Linked DNA regions of Homo sapiens: region 1 is linked to region 2. The links come from fine-mapping of genetic effects on gene expression. Tissue or cell type: monocytes after LPS. Region 2 holds a variant in brackets; the other region holds the start of a gene. All regions are shown on one strand. Distances are between the middles of the regions.

Region 1 (8,060 bases), 280 kb before region 2:
ATAGATGGATAGCTAAGAAAAAAACAAATGTTAAGATTATCATTATTTATAGCCCAATGATTTAGTAATCTAAAAAAATCCAAGAACAACAAAATAATCCCTAAGAAGGACAAGAATTTTAAAACATGCAGTTTAGAAAACCAAATTTCTCAGGCCTAGAGCTCAAGTAAAAGAAAATCTGAGATAATGAAGTCTGGAACACTGGGCCTGCATTCTGCTCCTGACTCTGTGCCCTTGGGTAAGACATTGAACTTCCCCACCCCAGATTCATCCTACACCCTAAGGAGGGTGTAGGATTTTGTAGCCTTCCTAGTGATGGCATACTATTAATCAGAACCTTAACCAGCTCTATTCTCACTATCCCAGTAAAATGATGTTAAAAATTAGACCTCGTGACATGAGAGAAGAGGGGAAATTAATTACAGATTACAAAGAAATTGTGGGATCTAAGTTTAGGGTGAGGTGTTTTATTGAACCTCTAGGGTTGGTCATAGCACCTGCCATATAGCAGGTATTCAATAAATGATGTGTAATGGGTGGTTAGACTGATGGAAAGGCAGGCCTTCCCAGTGACGGTAAAGGACCTGGGGCAAAAGAGACCTGTGGTTGAGTCCTGATCCCCACACATTAGCACACTGACTAGACGAAGTTATAAGCTTCAATTTCTTCCTGTGTAAAATGGAGATAATACCTCATAGGGTTATGAGGATTAAATAAGAAAATGCTTAGTTCAGTGCCTAATACACAGGAAGCACACCGTAAATATTAGTTATTATTATTACTAATACTGTGATCATATCTTCCATCCAAAGACTTCTCTGAGGAGCAGGGGGCATCCAGAGATAAAAAGCCTGCAGGTGGGAAATCTGTTAGCCTTCTAGGGCGTTAGGTTTCTGTGGAACTCTGCACCTCTTCCCTGTCCTAGTTCTTAAGAACAGAAACTCTCCAGGGACCTCTGGTGAGGTAGCCGTGGGAAGATGAGGTGCAGAAGTAAGCTGGGACCTGTGAGCCTCAATTTCGGCCTCTTCTGCGCTGAGACCCAAGCGGATCTTGCTTGGCCTGTATGCGTTACTGGGGGAAATGGACGTGGGCCTGAGCGCGGCAGGTGCGAGGGCGCTGCCCCGGGGCCGACCACCCTGCGGGGACACTGTAGCTGTCATTCCTTCTTCTGCAGGCGGGTAGGGGAAGCGGTGGCCAAAGTGGGAGTCGACCGCTCAGCACAGTCTGTCTGAGTGTTGACCAGGAAAGTCCAGGCTCTTTCTAAATCTCGCCGCCAGACCTGGTGACGCATTCGCATGTATTTAAGGCGTTTGCACGCAGAACGTTATCACAGAATGTAGCCACCTTTCTTAACGGTCCGGGAAACCAGAGGTCTCTCCAGCTACTCAGGGTAGAGGAATTTCTCCTATCTCCATGTGACATCTTCTGATTTAGAAGAACTAATGTTAGATTTCTCTTGGGCCTTTCCACCTACAGCTATAGTCTTCCCTTTGTTTAGCTAAAATTGAGGCAGGTAGGAAAATATTATTGGGGGCATAAGCCTATTAGTGTGTAAACGTATTTTTATGAAGTGTGCCTCCAGGGAGCCATTAAAAACTGACCTCTCAACCACAGAAATAGATGAGATTTTGAGAACATTGAGAAGCTGCCTTTTGCAAAGTAAATTTGCAATGGTCCTTGACGAAGGGGGGTCGGGGGCGGGGAGAAGTCCAGCCGAGAGAGGAGCTCATTCCACGCTATATTTTTGCAGTTGAAAAGCTGCCTAATCATCGCTAACCGCTTCCCGCATAAGAGTTCTGGGAAGACTTCAGAAACAAGGCAAATGAAGACTTTTCACTGCCTCCTTCGGGCTGTCGCTTCCGGAAGCCGAAGTCCTAGCACGCAGAGCAGCAGGAGAGGGTTACTTTCAGGCAATTCCACTGAGCAAAATAAATCACTTAATGGCATAACGTTCTGGCTTAAAAAATTGGAATTTATCAGAGGCAAAAATATCCTTCAAGAAACTATGGACACTCCGCGCCCTATTCATTTCCATGGCAGCAGAGTATCTGCATCTTGAGCCACCTATACAGATTCATGCCTCGTATCGCTCTCACCTCCTTTCTTTTTGAAGTAAAGCCCTTTCCCAAGAAGGCGGCCAGAAAGTGGACCCCACCGGGGGAAAAAGAAAAATGAAACGCAAATCAGCTTGGCACTGCTTGCGTCTTCCAAAACGCGGTGGGACAAGGCTATTGAGTCTATAGCTAATTCTTTCATGTATATAAAATGTATACATATGTATATATTTTTATATACATAAAAGAATTCATATATATGTATATAGCTATGTGGAGCCCTGAAGCAATTCTCCATGCTTTTGTCTCCCTCAAGTTCCCCAGGTGGAGGCAGTCATAAGCATTATAAGCCGCCTTAGTGACCACCAGGGACGGAAACCGTTAATTATCACGTTTCCTTTCATCTCCAGGGGCCCTTTGGCCCGTGACACAAGAGGCTTCGGTATTGGCGCTTTCCCAGAACTGGCCCAGAGGAGCCAGTTCAGAGTGTGAGGTCGGGTCTGCATTGAACGTACACACCGAGGTCTATCAGACTCCCCCGATTTTAGCGAAGGGTGCTGACTGCTGTGCTGCTAGAGGCTAGCAAGCTCCCTGTGCGCAGCTGATGAGTTTCAGCAACTCGCCACCTGGGCGCTTTTCTTTAAATTTTGGGAGTAAACTGGGAAAATAAAAAAATCTCCACGTCCACTGGCTCTCTCCCCTTCTCCAACTTCCTCTTTCGACTCGTTTGTGGGAGTTTTCTCCTCTTTGCTGGGACTATAATGTGATGCGCAATCGTTTGTGAATGAACAAAAGTCACCGGCAAGCAGGGAGACGGGGACAGATCGCTGACGGCAGATTGAGGGTGGCAGCAAAGGCCCGGCCTCCAAGGATAATGGGGAGCCGTTTTCCCTCACGCCTGGTCTCTATGGCCCCCTTCGTCTTCCAGGTAAAATGAATGTTCCTTCATCCATCATCCGCAGAGTACCCTCAGGCGTGCGTAGAATCTGCTGATGAAACCTATTAGCGCCGACTGGGCAGCTTTGTGGAGCCACCCGAGGCTCTCCATTGTGGCCTTTGTCTGCAGAATTTAAGCATTTACATAATGCATTAGCACGGAACTCAGCACCCGGTGGGGACATCGCGTGCCAAGCCTGGCGCGGCCAACGCTTCAGCGGCTCCCTCACCCGGCAGCTCCCTAGGACCACCCTCGAGGAGGCATTGGAGTCGGGCTGCAGGCGCACGGGCAAAGAACTTAGCATCTCATCCAAGTACTTCGCCTTCCTTGGCCGTCTCCGGGAGGTTATGCTTAAAAACATAAAAATAAAAATAAAAATAAAAATAAAGGGAGGCGGACAAAGTTTCGGTGGGTGAACTGAAGCTGGGTCCATGTGACCCTGAAGCCGGAGAAATAAACTTAACATGAATCTTGCTTTCCTGGCGGGCGTTGGGACCCCGCCGTTTTTCATGCCAACCGTTGGAAGCTTCGTACTCAACGGCCACAGGTGCCTAGGAGCGCAGAGAGGCCTCGGGTTCAAATCACCGGCGCGCAGGGACTGGACTCGCGGGTAGCGACCCCCCCAACCCCCCCCCCCCCGCCCTACACACACACCCTCGCGCCGGCTGAAAGCATGGAGGATTCAGGGCATTTGAAAAAAGAGGGGCTGGGCGCGGTGGCTCACGCCTGTAATCCCAGCGGTTTGGGAGGTCCAGAAGGGCGGATCACTTGAGGTCAGGAGTTCGAGACCAGCCTGGCCAACACCAGCCTGGCCAACATGGTGAGACCCCGTGTCTACTAAAAATACAAAAATTAGCCAGGCGTGGTGCCTGTAATATCAGCTACTTGGGAGGCTGAGGCACGAGAATCGCTTGAACCTGGGAGGCGGAGGTTGCAGTGAGCCCAGATCGCGCCACCGCCCTCCTGCTCTGGGTGATAGAGCAAGGCACTGTCTCAAAACAAAACAAAACAAAACGAAAGATTCGGTCAGGAAAGAATCTGCAGGCATTCGAGGCGCTCGCACTTTGCAAAGTAAATGCAATCTCTTTATTAAGCCGAAGTCCCTCATATCTATCCTTTTAGAGGAAGGTGGTCCAACTCAGAAATCTCTCCCAAGAGGACTTTCCACCGAAGACTACCGCGAAGTGCCAGGAACTCGCCCCAGTCCCGACAGGTGCAGGACCTTTCGTGCCGCCACACCTTGGGACTCTACCTCCCTAAATAGGCCACTTAAAAGCCAGTAGTGCAACCGGGATCCCGCGGCGATAAAGAATCACTGTGCAGAACCCTGGAGCTGGGAGTCGGCCCGCCCCCCTCCCAAAGAAACCGGGATCCCGCGTCCTCCCCGCCGCTAGCGCAGCGCGCCAGCGGCGCCCAATCAGTGAGCTTTCCGGGTCTGTGACGGCCTTCGGCTCCGCCCCCTCGACGGCCATAAAAAGTCGCAGCGAAGCCTGCACCTCCGAGCACCGCGCGCGGCCCTGCCCCCGGCACGGCCCCCAGGTGCGCTCCTTCTCCGGCTGCTTGTAGCACTGGTCTCACTGTCCCCGCCGTCAGCCACCGGTTCCTTATCCGTCTCATTCCCCATTGTGGCTTGGCTGAGCCGGTCGCCAGGCCTCGCTGTCCTCCTTTGCCTTCCTCTCTCCTCAGCGGCCGTACTTTGCGCCGTACCTCACCTGGCCTGCAGGTGAGCAGCAGCGCAGCACCCCTGCCCGGCGAGCTTAACTTGCCCAGCCCGGCCCCTGCCGGAGTGGCACCGGCACCTCTCCAAGACGCCCTCTTCCCTGCAGGATGAAGAACCCCATGCTGGAGGTGGTGTCTTTACTACTGGAGAAGCTGCTCCTCATCTCCAACTTCACGCTCTTTAGTTCGGGCGCCGCGGGCGAAGACAAAGGGAGGAACAGTTTTTATGAAACCAGCTCTTTCCACCGAGGCGACGTGCTGGAGGTGCCCCGGACCCACCTGACCCACTATGGCATCTACCTAGGAGACAACCGTGTTGCCCACATGATGCCCGACATCCTGTTGGCCCTGACAGACGACATGGGGCGCACGCAGAAGGTGGTCTCCAACAAGCGTCTCATCCTGGGCGTTATTGTCAAAGTGGCCAGCATCCGCGTGGACACAGTGGAGGACTTCGCCTACGGAGCTAACATCCTGGTCAATCACCTGGACGAGTCCCTCCAGAAAAAGGCACTGCTCAACGAGGAGGTGGCGCGGAGGGCTGAAAAGCTGCTGGGCTTTACCCCCTACAGCCTGCTGTGGAACAACTGCGAGCACTTCGTGACCTACTGCAGATATGGCACCCCGATCAGTCCCCAGTCCGACAAGGTATGATGTGTGACTCCCAGGGGAAGTGGGCTCCGCGGAGATGCCCCCTCCCATCCCTGACCTTTTCTCTTCCCCGCGAGTAGGGATCTAATTCCTGGACACCTCCCCTACCACTTCCATACCATCCTTTTTCTTTTTCCTTTTTTTTTTTTTTTTTTTTTTTTTTTTTTGAGACGGAGTCTCGCTCTGTTGCTCAGGCTGGAGTGCAGTGGCGCGATCTCCACTCACTGCAAACTCCGCCTCCAGAGTTCACGCCATTCTCCTGCCTCAGCCTCCTGAGTAGCTGGGACTACAGGCACCCGCCACCACGCCCGGCTAATTTATTTTTGTATTTTTAGTAGAGATGGGGTTTCACCGTATTAGCAAGGATGGTCCCGATCTCCTGACCTCGTGATCCTCCCGCCTCAGCATCCCAAAGTGCTGGGATTACAGGCGTGAGCCACCGTGCCCGGCCTTCCATAACATTCTTAAAGTTCTAGATTAAGTAAGGAAAGTTCTGGTGTTCCTAAGGTAGGCTAAGTAAATAAGCAAATGGCAACGTGCCTTGCAGGATATCTCGAAATGCTTAGAGAAAGGATGTGGCAATGCAGGACCGCTTCCAGAGATTCCAGAGCTGCCCAGTATTGCTGCAGAAGTCATCAGGTGTCCACCCACAGTGTAGTTCAAACGACAAAGGGCAAGTGACTGGGGGTGGGGGATACAAGGAATCAGTCACCGCTGCTTGCAACTTTAACCAAGAATTTCACTTGAAAGGAAGAGGTCCAGAGTTTATATTTAATCCATAACACTATAAACAAAGTGTGTGCCTTTAAAATAAGGAACCATGCAGTTTTCTCCCTTTGAAAGCTGCATAGAGGGATTTTTCATTGCTTGCTATAAGCTATCAAAATTCCCAGTAAGAGGGCCCCCCTGGTAGTTCCCTTATTCTTTGTGTTGGTGCTTCAGAGTTGTATTTTCCATGGTATTCTGAATTCTTTCTGGGTTGGCTTTGATCCTCATCTAGACTTCATTGTTAAGCATCCTTTACCCATTAGCCCTGAAGGTAGATTACATTGTTTATGGGTTCCCCAGAGATCAATACAATTAGTTTTCAAGAAGAGATGTTAAACATTGGAAGGTAATTTTTATGAGTATTTTGAAAAAATACTCATGATTATTAAATTAGCCACAAATCCAAAGGGAAAAATGGATTTTTATTTCCTTTTAAAACCTCTTAACTTTTAAAAATAGTTAAGATTTTAAGCCTGAAACTTCACTTACAATTGGAAACTTTCTCAGCCTTCATTGCACTTGTTAAAGAAGTCATTGTTAATGTTCAGTCTTTATAATGGAAACCTGGGCAATAACATATGAGCTTTAGTGTTACTCTTCATGTTTAGATATTTTTGGGACCAGAAAAAGCTAAGTCAGTTTTTTTCATGTAACCAGTTTTTAATTGCTCCACATCTTGGTTAATTTTTTTGACCCATTTGGGAACATCTTTCTCTATCCTCTGTGGGAGAGCATGGAAGTATTTTGCTTTTATAGATCGGTGTATGAAACTCCTTATAGATTTTATAGAGCCACAAAAGACTCAATCTAGGAATTCTTTTCCAAGTAAAATAAAAATACAGTTAGAGCACTGTGCAGCGATTCAAGAATCACAGCTCTAGTCCAGGCCTGTTTAGAAATGAACTCCACCACATTTACAAACACGGGCTCCCAAAGTGTACAAAAGGAAACATGTCAGATTTACTTAGGAACCAAGCAAATCATTTCTCTAAGGAAAAACAGTATTTCTATCAGGTAATTAGGAGTTACCCTTTCATGGAACACATATAGCGCTGCATTATATATTTCTACAGAAAAACAGTAACTAGTGCTTTTGTAAGGTAGTAAAATATTTAATCTGCATAAATAACTAGTTGGAGTAGTTTTTCATCTTTGGAAACTTTGTTAGGGTCTACAGAAGTAGAGAAGTGTTTTAATTGCTGTTGCTGCATAGCACCTCTTGTGAAACTGAGTTTTGTCTTCACTTTGAATGGTCTAACAAACAATTTGGCCACAGAGTAGATTTCCCGGGGGAAAAAAAAAAGTTTTCATCCCAAATTTCCTAATTCTACAAACTGTTTTTGAACATGCACTGAGAGAAGTAGGTCATTAATACTGAAGGAAGGACTGGTTTCTACTTTTTAGAAACATAAGAAATTATTTGATTCTGGGTCTGATTGCTGAGTTCTCCATATATGCAACTAATATTAACATGAGAGTTACAAAGTTGCCTCTTACTTAAATTTGAGTTAATAAAAACTCTCAAGAACACACTACCCCTAAGGAAAACACTGCAATTAGTTTGCAAATGAATGAACTGGAAAAGAACATTTACTCCTTTGTGGTAACACTCTATTTTACAAGTTTAGAAGTCATAAAATAATGGGATTTTTATAATACTGTTGACAATCAGTATTTTGTAAACTAAAAATTCCTTTGGTTAATAACTATTACTATTCCTTATGCTTTTTCTACTATGATTTTTTTTTACTTTGTTAATACTGCTCTTTCATTGCCAAAAATGATTGCAAATGCCCCTTTTAATTTGTGTGGATTGAGTGCTCACAAGAGTGTTCCTACAGACTTATTGACCCCTTCTAGAAATTTCCTACTGTTGAGCACCACTAAAGATGCCTGCTGGTCTGCTGACCAAGTGAACAGGAACAGGGTAT
Region 2 (8,060 bases):
CCAGATTGGATGACCACTTAAGTGCAGGTCTTGTTGACTTGCTCCCGTGCTCCCAGAACTGCAGAAAGAGCATCCTGGTCAGAGAGAGACTGCCCTCTTGAATTTCTATTTCCCAAAGAATACAAACTATGGCATCTACCTGGTACCAGAGCCCTGAAATTAGGGTGACAAGAAATTGATGATACTAAGTGATAAAAGTTCACTGGGACCAAGTCAGTGTGCAGTAGTGTGGTTCAAATGCCAGAGGAATGTGGCAGGGGCTTCTGGTTGGGACTGCTTCAAAATATAGTTGAATCTTGCAAGGGACCACTGATTTTAGGGGGAGAGTTTGAGACTGAGTTTCATACCAGCAAGGTCTTCTGGGGCCTGTACTCATCCACGGGAGTCTGGAGACAACAAGCCAGATCCCTGATGGTCATCAACAGAACAAGAAGAGCAACTGACTACCACTGATGGAAGGTTGTTTATGACCAACAAAGAAAAAGAGAGTTACTCCAAGAAAGTAACTGACGTGAAACAAAACGGCTTTTTCCACTCTCCTCCCCAACACCAGAGTAACCAGTGTAAGAAAGAAAGGGGTATGAAAGACAGCCCTTCCCACTTCACCCCAAACTCAATCCTCCATAAGAGGGGCGAAGGAGAAGGGGATGGTAGAGTCAGCTTGATTCAGATTTGAAACCGAAGTTTAAAAATGGTCGGGACTAAGTCTTAGTGACGAAAATGCAATAGTTAATACTTAAAAAAAGTAAAAAGTTATGGAATCAGATTGGAATATCTAAAATAGAGTCTGCTACTTGGCAGGAAGTTTGGAGGTAGGCAGAACACAGTTGCTGTCAGTTGTTTGAAAAAAAATCTTCCTAACTGTACCCCAGAAGAAATTATTTTGTAGCTAATAAGTGCTGTAGCTAATAAGTGCTGCTGAGTTGCAGAGATGCAGCAGGAAGATGGGGATGCAGTACTCCAGGGACCCTGCACTGGATGGAGGAGGCAGGCTGGCCCAGGGAGAGGGGCAGAAAGTCAAGTTACTTTTACTCTCCTAAACTATTAGACACTTGAAAGGATAGAGGGAGAGGAGAGGAAAATACACATTTTTTTTTGAATGGACAAAATGCACAGGATATGCTTTAGAAATCGGCTAATTATCTCATAGCCCAGTAATAATACAAGCAAGAGCCTTCCACATACTATGTGAGGGATTACAGCTGGACTGTTCATCCTTTTGCTAACTTAGGCATCTCGGCACCATGTGAGCCATCAGGGTTGTTGACACCCAGGAAGCCGAGCTCCTGTGGCCCTCATCACTCATTTAAAAGCCCATCATAGTGAGGGCATGAGCAGAGGGAGGGCAGAAAGAGACAATCATTTCTTTTTCTTTTTAAGATGCATATTGCAGCTGGAAATGCCAAAACTGAGAACCAAGAATTGTTATCATTTGTAAAGAAATGAGTCAGAAAAAGTCATAATTCAATTAATATTTCATCTGTAGTTGTCTATTTTCCTAAACCAGTTATCTTGCTTAATATCACTCAGCTGCTTTGTTCTCAGTGAAAAACAGGATGCAGAGACAAGAGGAAGCCCCAGGGAAGTACTTCTCCTGGAGGCGGAAGTTTGGTCAGAAGCTTCCTCCTTTAGGAGTCTAAGCAGGGATGTGGAGAGAAGATGGGGAAAATATTTGCCCTCTACGAACAGAAGAAGAAAATTTGAAGTATCTAGGTTACTTTTGGTGATCTGGTAGATTGAAACATCAGTTCGGTGAACTGATGTGCTGGAGTAATACATTGCCTTGAGAAACCCCAAAAGTTAGGAGGATGCTGACTCCTTTGCAAACAATGTAGGGTAATGTCACTCACACTGCCACACCTATTATAGGATACGCTTTTTATAATATTGTTCTTTAATTGATGTATAACAATGGTACATATTTATGGAGTACACACTGATGTTTCAATACATAAAGTGATCAGACCAGGGTAGTTAGCATATCCATCATCTCAAATAGAATATCTTTTAATTTCAGACATTTCATAATGATAGAGCAATGAATTTTAGAATTTATGTTTTCATACTCTATCCCTTGGGGAAGTGATAGCAAAATTATTTAAAAAAGAGAACATAAATCACTGTTTTTATACTAATAAAATTAGCTAGAACCTCTCATATATGACATGATTGAACCAATTTAACATTGCAGAGTGATAATTCTAGGTCAAAATTTCCAGCCGTCTCTTGTTCATCTCTACCTTCAAGGCCAGGCACAAAAATACTTAATACATCTAGAATCAAACTAGCTTCTTTCTGAAGACTTCTTTTCATTTTGAAGGTTCTATACCTCAATTAAAATTAGTCTCTCTGCCCTCTCTTACATACACAGACACACACTCAAACTCATGCACACACCCTAAGGAAGATTAAAGATACAGTTTCAACAGGCTGGCAGTAGAATTCATCTTAAGAATCAAACTTCTCTGTTCAGGTCAATGTATGGGGAGAAGATAAAGTTCCAAGGGCATGATTCACAAGGAGATTATGAAACAGTAAAGGAACCAAGCTTTTTTCCCTAAGAAGAGGAAGGAATGTGGGAATTTGGAAATGGTGTCCATCAGAGCAAAAAGGAAAGTGAAGGAAGCCAAGGAACATAGCAAAAGGCTGGAACCTTTGGAGAAAGTTGAAGAGTGAGAAATGTCTAGCAGTGTGGATGGTGACTACTAAGAATAGGGATGTGTTATAAGTAAAATCATGTTTCTTATACAAATATAAAATGAGCACATATGAAAGATTGTATTTAACTTCTTCATGAAACCAGTAAGACGTAAAAACCAGTTCAAAGCAAAATTTGAGGAACACACATACACACACACACACACACACACACACACACACACGCAATGAGGAATGCAGAAATCATTTTGCTAAGATGCAAAACTGGTAAATATCCTATAGGACAATAATATATATGCAAAATATTATAATGTTTGGCATCTCTTCTGCATGATGAAATTAATTATATTTCTACTAGTCAACATTTAAATGTTTCTTTGAACAAGAATTATTTGCATTACTCTGTTTCTACATCTTAATTACTACTCCCTCTCACAGACTCCTAAAATAGCCTAGTCAATAGAAAGACAATCCGAGATCCACACCTCTAAGGATTCAGACAATTCCTGGAGACTGCTCCTAGATGCCTAGAATTGCACTGAGAGGACACTCCGTAATTGGTTTTGCCCGTTTCCAAATCTTTTGTCATTTTTCCTAACAGATAATAATATTCAATTTGAAGGATATTTTGAGATATAATTCTCTATCTTTCCAAATAGTGAAGTTTGGCACACACCTGTATGTCCAGTGCAGGCTATCTTTGGGAGGATGGTGTTCAGAAATACGAAGGAAATGAGCTGACTTTGAAGCCTAGATTAGTGTGGAGCAAGTAGAACAAGATAATTGCTGGGAATAATGTGTGAATGAGGTTTAGAACTCTGCAGAAGGAACTCAGCACTAGAGATGACCGGCAGGTTGGAAAGCACTGAAAATTAACAGAAATCTTAGGGAGGCCTTTGCATTTTCTCCAAGATAAGGGATACTGGGCTAAATAGGATGACATTAATTCATATGTTAATATTAAATCATAGAAAAAGATAATGGGATTTCTACTTTAAAGTGCATATAGTGAAGGGTTTTTTATATCTGTATCTCCTTCAGTTCTGCTCTGATCTTAGTTATTTCTTGCCTTCTGCTAGCTTTTGAATGTGTTTGCTCTTGCTTCTCTAGTTCTTTTAATTGTGATGTTAGGGTGTCAATTTTAGATCTTTCCTGCTTTCTCTTGTGGGCATTTAGTGCTATAAATTTCCCTCTACACACTGCTTTGAATGTGTCCCAGAGATTATGGTATGTTGTGTCTTTGTTCTCATTGGTTTCAAAGAACATCTTTATTTCTGCCTTCATTTCCTTATGTACCCAGTAGTCATCCAGGAGGAGGTTGTTCAGTTTCCATGCAGTTGAGTGGTTTTGAGTGAGTTTCTTACTCCTGAGTTCTAGTTTGATTGCACTGTGGTCTGAGAGACAGTTTGTTATAATTTCTGTTCTTTTACATTTGCTGAGGAGAGCTTTACTTCCAACGATGTGGTCGATTTTGGAATAAGTGCAGTGTGGTGCTGAGAAGAATGTATATTCTGTTGATTTGGGGTGGAGAGTTCTGTAGATGTCTATTAGGTCTGCTTGGTGCAGAGCTGAGTTCAATTCCTGGATATCCTTGTTAACTTTCTGTCTTGTTGATCTGTCTAATGTTGACGGTGGGATATTAAAGTCTCCCATTATTATTGTGTGGGAGTCTAAGTCTCTTTCTAGGTCTCTAAGGACTTGCTTTATGAATCTGGGTGCTTCTGTATTGGGTGCATATCTATTTAGGATAGTTAGCTCTTCTTGTTGAATTGAGCCCTTTACCATTATGTAATGGCCTTCTTTGTCTCTTTTGATCTTCGTTGGTTTAAAGTCTGTTTTATCAGAGACTAGGATTGCAACCCCTGCCTTTTTTTTGTTTTCCATTTGCTTGGTAGATCTTCCTCCATCCCTTTATTTTGAGCCTATGTGTGTCTCTGCACATGAGATGGGTTTTCTGAATACAGCACACTGATGGGTCTTGACTCTTTATCCAATTTGCCAGTCTGTGTCTTTTAATTGGAGCATTTAGCCCATTTACATTTAAGGTTAATATTGTTATGTGTGAATTTGATCCTGTCATTATGATGTTAGCTGGTTATTTTGCTCGTTAGTTGATGCAGTTTCTTTCTAGTCTCGATGGTCTTTACAATTTGGCATGTTTTTGCAGTGGCTAGTACTGGTTGTTCCTTTCCATGTTTAGTGCTTCCTTCAGGAGCTCTTGTAGGGCAGGCCTGGTGGTGACAAAATCTCTCAGCATTTGCTTGTCT[G/A]TAAAGGATTTTATTTCTCCTTCATTTATGAAGCTTAATTTGGCTGGATAAGAAATTCTGGGTTGAAAATTCTTTTCTTTAAGAATGTTGAATATTGGCCCCCACTCTCTTCTGGCTTGTAGAGTTTCTGCTGAGAGATCAGCCGTTAGTCTGATGGGCTTCCCTTTGTGGGTAACCCGACCTTTCTCTCTGGCTGCCCTTAACATATTTTCCTTCATTTCAACTTTGGTGAATCTGACAATTATGTGTCTTGGAGTTACTCTTCTCGACGAGTATCTTTGTGGTGTTCTCTGTATTTCCTGAATTTGAATGTTGGCCTGCCTTGCTAGGTTGGGGAAGTTCCCTTGTATAATATCCTGCAGAGTGTTCTCCAACTTGGTTCCATTCTCCCCGTCACTTTGAGGTACACCAGTCAGACATAGATTTGGTCTTTTCACATACTCCTATATTTCTTGGAGGCTTTGTTCGTTTCTTTTTATTCTTTTTTCTCTAAACTTCTCTTCTCACTTCATTTCATTCATTTGATCTTCCATCACTGATAACCCTTTCTTCCAGTTGATCGAATCGGCTACTGAGGCTTGTGCATTCATCATGTAGTTCTCATGCCATGGTTTTCAGCTCCACCATGTCATTTAAGGACTTCTCTACATTGGTTATTCCAGTTAGTCATTCGTCTAATCTTTTTCAAGGTTTTTAACTCCTTTGCAATGGGTTCAAACTTCCTCCTTTAGCTCGGAGAAGTTTGATCATCTGAAGCCTTCTTCTCTCAACTCGTGAAAGTCATTCTCCATCCAGCTTTGTTCCGTTGCTGGTGAGGAGCTGCATTCCTTTGGAGGAGGAGAGGTGCTCTGATTTTTAGAATTTTCAGTTTTTCTGCTCTGTTTTCTCCCCATCTCTGTGGTTTTATCTACCTTTGCTCTTTGATGATGGTGACGTACACATGGGATTTTGGTGTGGATGTCCTTCCTGTTTGTTAGTTTTCCTTCTAACAGTCAGGACCCTCAGCTGCAGGTCTGTTGGAGTTTGCTGGAGGTCCACTCCAGACACTGTTTGCCTGGCTATCAGCAGTGGAGGCTGCAGAACATTGAATATTGCTGAACAGCAAATGTTGCTGCCTGATCACTCCTCTGGAAGCTTCGTTTCAGTGGGGTACCCGGCCGTGGGTTGTCAGTCGGCTCCTACTTGGGGGTGCCTCCCAGATAGGCTACTTGGGGGTCAGGGACCCACTTGAGGAGGCAGTCTGTCCATTCTCAGATCTTAAACTCCATGCTGGGAGAACCACTACTCTCTCCAAAGCTGTCAGACAGGTACTTTTAAGTCTGCAGAGGTTTCTGCTGCCTTTTGTTCGGCTATGCCCTGCCCCCAGAGGTGGACTCTACTAAGGCAGGTAGGCCTCCTTGAGCTGTGGTGGGCTCCACCCAGTTCGAGCTTCCTGGCCGCTTTGTTTACCTACTCAAGCCTTAGCAATGGTGGGCACCCCTCCCCGAGCCTCACTGGCCCCTTGCAGTTCCATCTCAGACTGTGTGCTAGCAATGAGTGAGGCTCTGTGGATGTGGGACCCTTTGAGCCAGGAGTGGGATATAATCTCCTGGTGTGCCATTTGCTAAGATCACTGGAAAAGTGCAGTATTAGGGTGGGAGTGACCCAATTTTCCAGGTGCTGTCTGTCACAGCTTTGCTTGGCTAGGAAAGGGAATTCCCTGACCCCTTGTGCTTGGCTGGTTTTTTGAAAAGATCAACAAAATTGATAGACCGCTAGCAAGACTAATAAAGAAGAAAAGAGAGAAGAATCAAATAGATGCAATAAAAAATGTTAAAGGGGATATCACCACTGATCCCACAGAAATACAAACTACCATCAGAGAATACTATAAACACCTCTATGCAAATAACCTAGAAAATCTAGAAGAAATGGGTAAATTCCTTGACACATACACCCTCCCAAGACTAAACCAGGAAGAAGTTGAATCTCTGAATAGACCAATAACAGGCTCTGAAATTGAGGCAATAATTAATAGCTTACCAACCAAAAAAAGTCCAGGACCAGACGGATTCACAGCCGAATTCTACCAGAGGTACAAGGAGGAACTGGTACCATTCCTTCTGAAACTATTCCAATCAATAGAAAAAGAGGGAATCCTCCCTAACTCATTTTATGAGGCCAGCATCATCCTGCTACCAAAGGCTGGCAGAGACACAACCAAAAAACGGAATTTTAGACCAATATCCCTGATGAACATCGATGCAAAAATCCTCAATAAAATACTGGCAAACTGAATCCAGCAGCACATCAAAAAGCTTATCCACCATGATCAAGTGGGCTTCATCCCTGGGATGCAAGGCTAGGTCAATATATGCAAATCAATAAATGTAATCCAGCATATAAACAGAACCAACAACAAAAACCACATGATTATCTCAATAGATGCAGAAAAGGCCTTTGACAAAATTCAACAGCCCTTCATGCTAAAAACTCTCAATAAATTAGGTATTGATGGGACGTATCTCAAGATAATAAGAGCTATTTATGACAAACCCACAGCCAATATCATACTAAATGGGCAAAAACTGGAAGCATTTCCTTTGAAAACTGGCACAAGACAGGGATGCCCTCTCTCACCACTCCTATTCAACATAGTGTTGGAAGTTCTGGCCAGGGCAATCAGGCAGGAGAAAGAAATAAAAGGTATTCTTAGGAAAAGAAGAAGTCAAATTGTCCCTGTTTGCAGATTACATGATTGTATATCTAGAAAACCCCATTGTCTCAGCTCAGCCCCAAATCTCCTTAAGCTGATAGGCAACTTCAGCAAAGTCTCAGGATACAAAATCAATGTGCAAAAATCACAAGCATTCTTATACACCAATAACAGACAAACAGAGAGCCGAATCATGAGTGAACTCCCATTCACAATTACTTCAAAGAGAATAAAATACCTAGGAATCCAACTTACAAGGGAAGTGAAGGACCAATTCAAGGAGAACTACAAACCACTGCTCAACGAAATAAAAGAGGATATAAACAAATGGAAGAACATTCCATCCTCATGGATAGGAAGAACCAATGTCATGAAAATGGCCATACTGCCCAAGGTAATTTACAGATTCAATGCCATCCCCATCAAGCTACCAATGACTT

Direction of the effects. Alleles are on the strand shown, and positions count from the first base shown. SD is a standard deviation of normalised expression in the study named.
In carriers of allele A in region 2, the expression in monocytes after LPS of the gene that starts at base 4,492 in region 1 tends to be lower than with G alone (large effect, 1.7 SD a copy in Fairfax 2014).

What was found. PIP is the estimated chance that this variant, and not a neighbour inherited with it, causes the effect.
Region 1: it holds the start of LRAT, and the variant in region 2 is fine-mapped to the expression of LRAT in monocytes after LPS (Fairfax 2014, PIP 0.95).

Annotation. Positions count from the first base shown.
Region 1 is chr4:154,739,509-154,747,568 of GRCh38, forward strand. It overlaps LRAT (lecithin retinol acyltransferase), which reads left to right and starts at 4,492. Exons shown (of 3, transcript NM_004744.5): 1 at 4,492-4,714; 2 at 4,818-5,358. The coding sequence starts at 4,819. RefSeq lists enhancers at 2,305-2,818, 2,819-3,330, 3,331-3,843.
Region 2 is chr4:155,015,078-155,023,137 of GRCh38, forward strand. No RefSeq gene overlaps it. Among named protein-coding and RNA genes, the nearest start is that of NPY2R-AS1, 190 kb to the right of the region's middle. The variant G/A (reference allele first, on the strand shown) is at 4,926.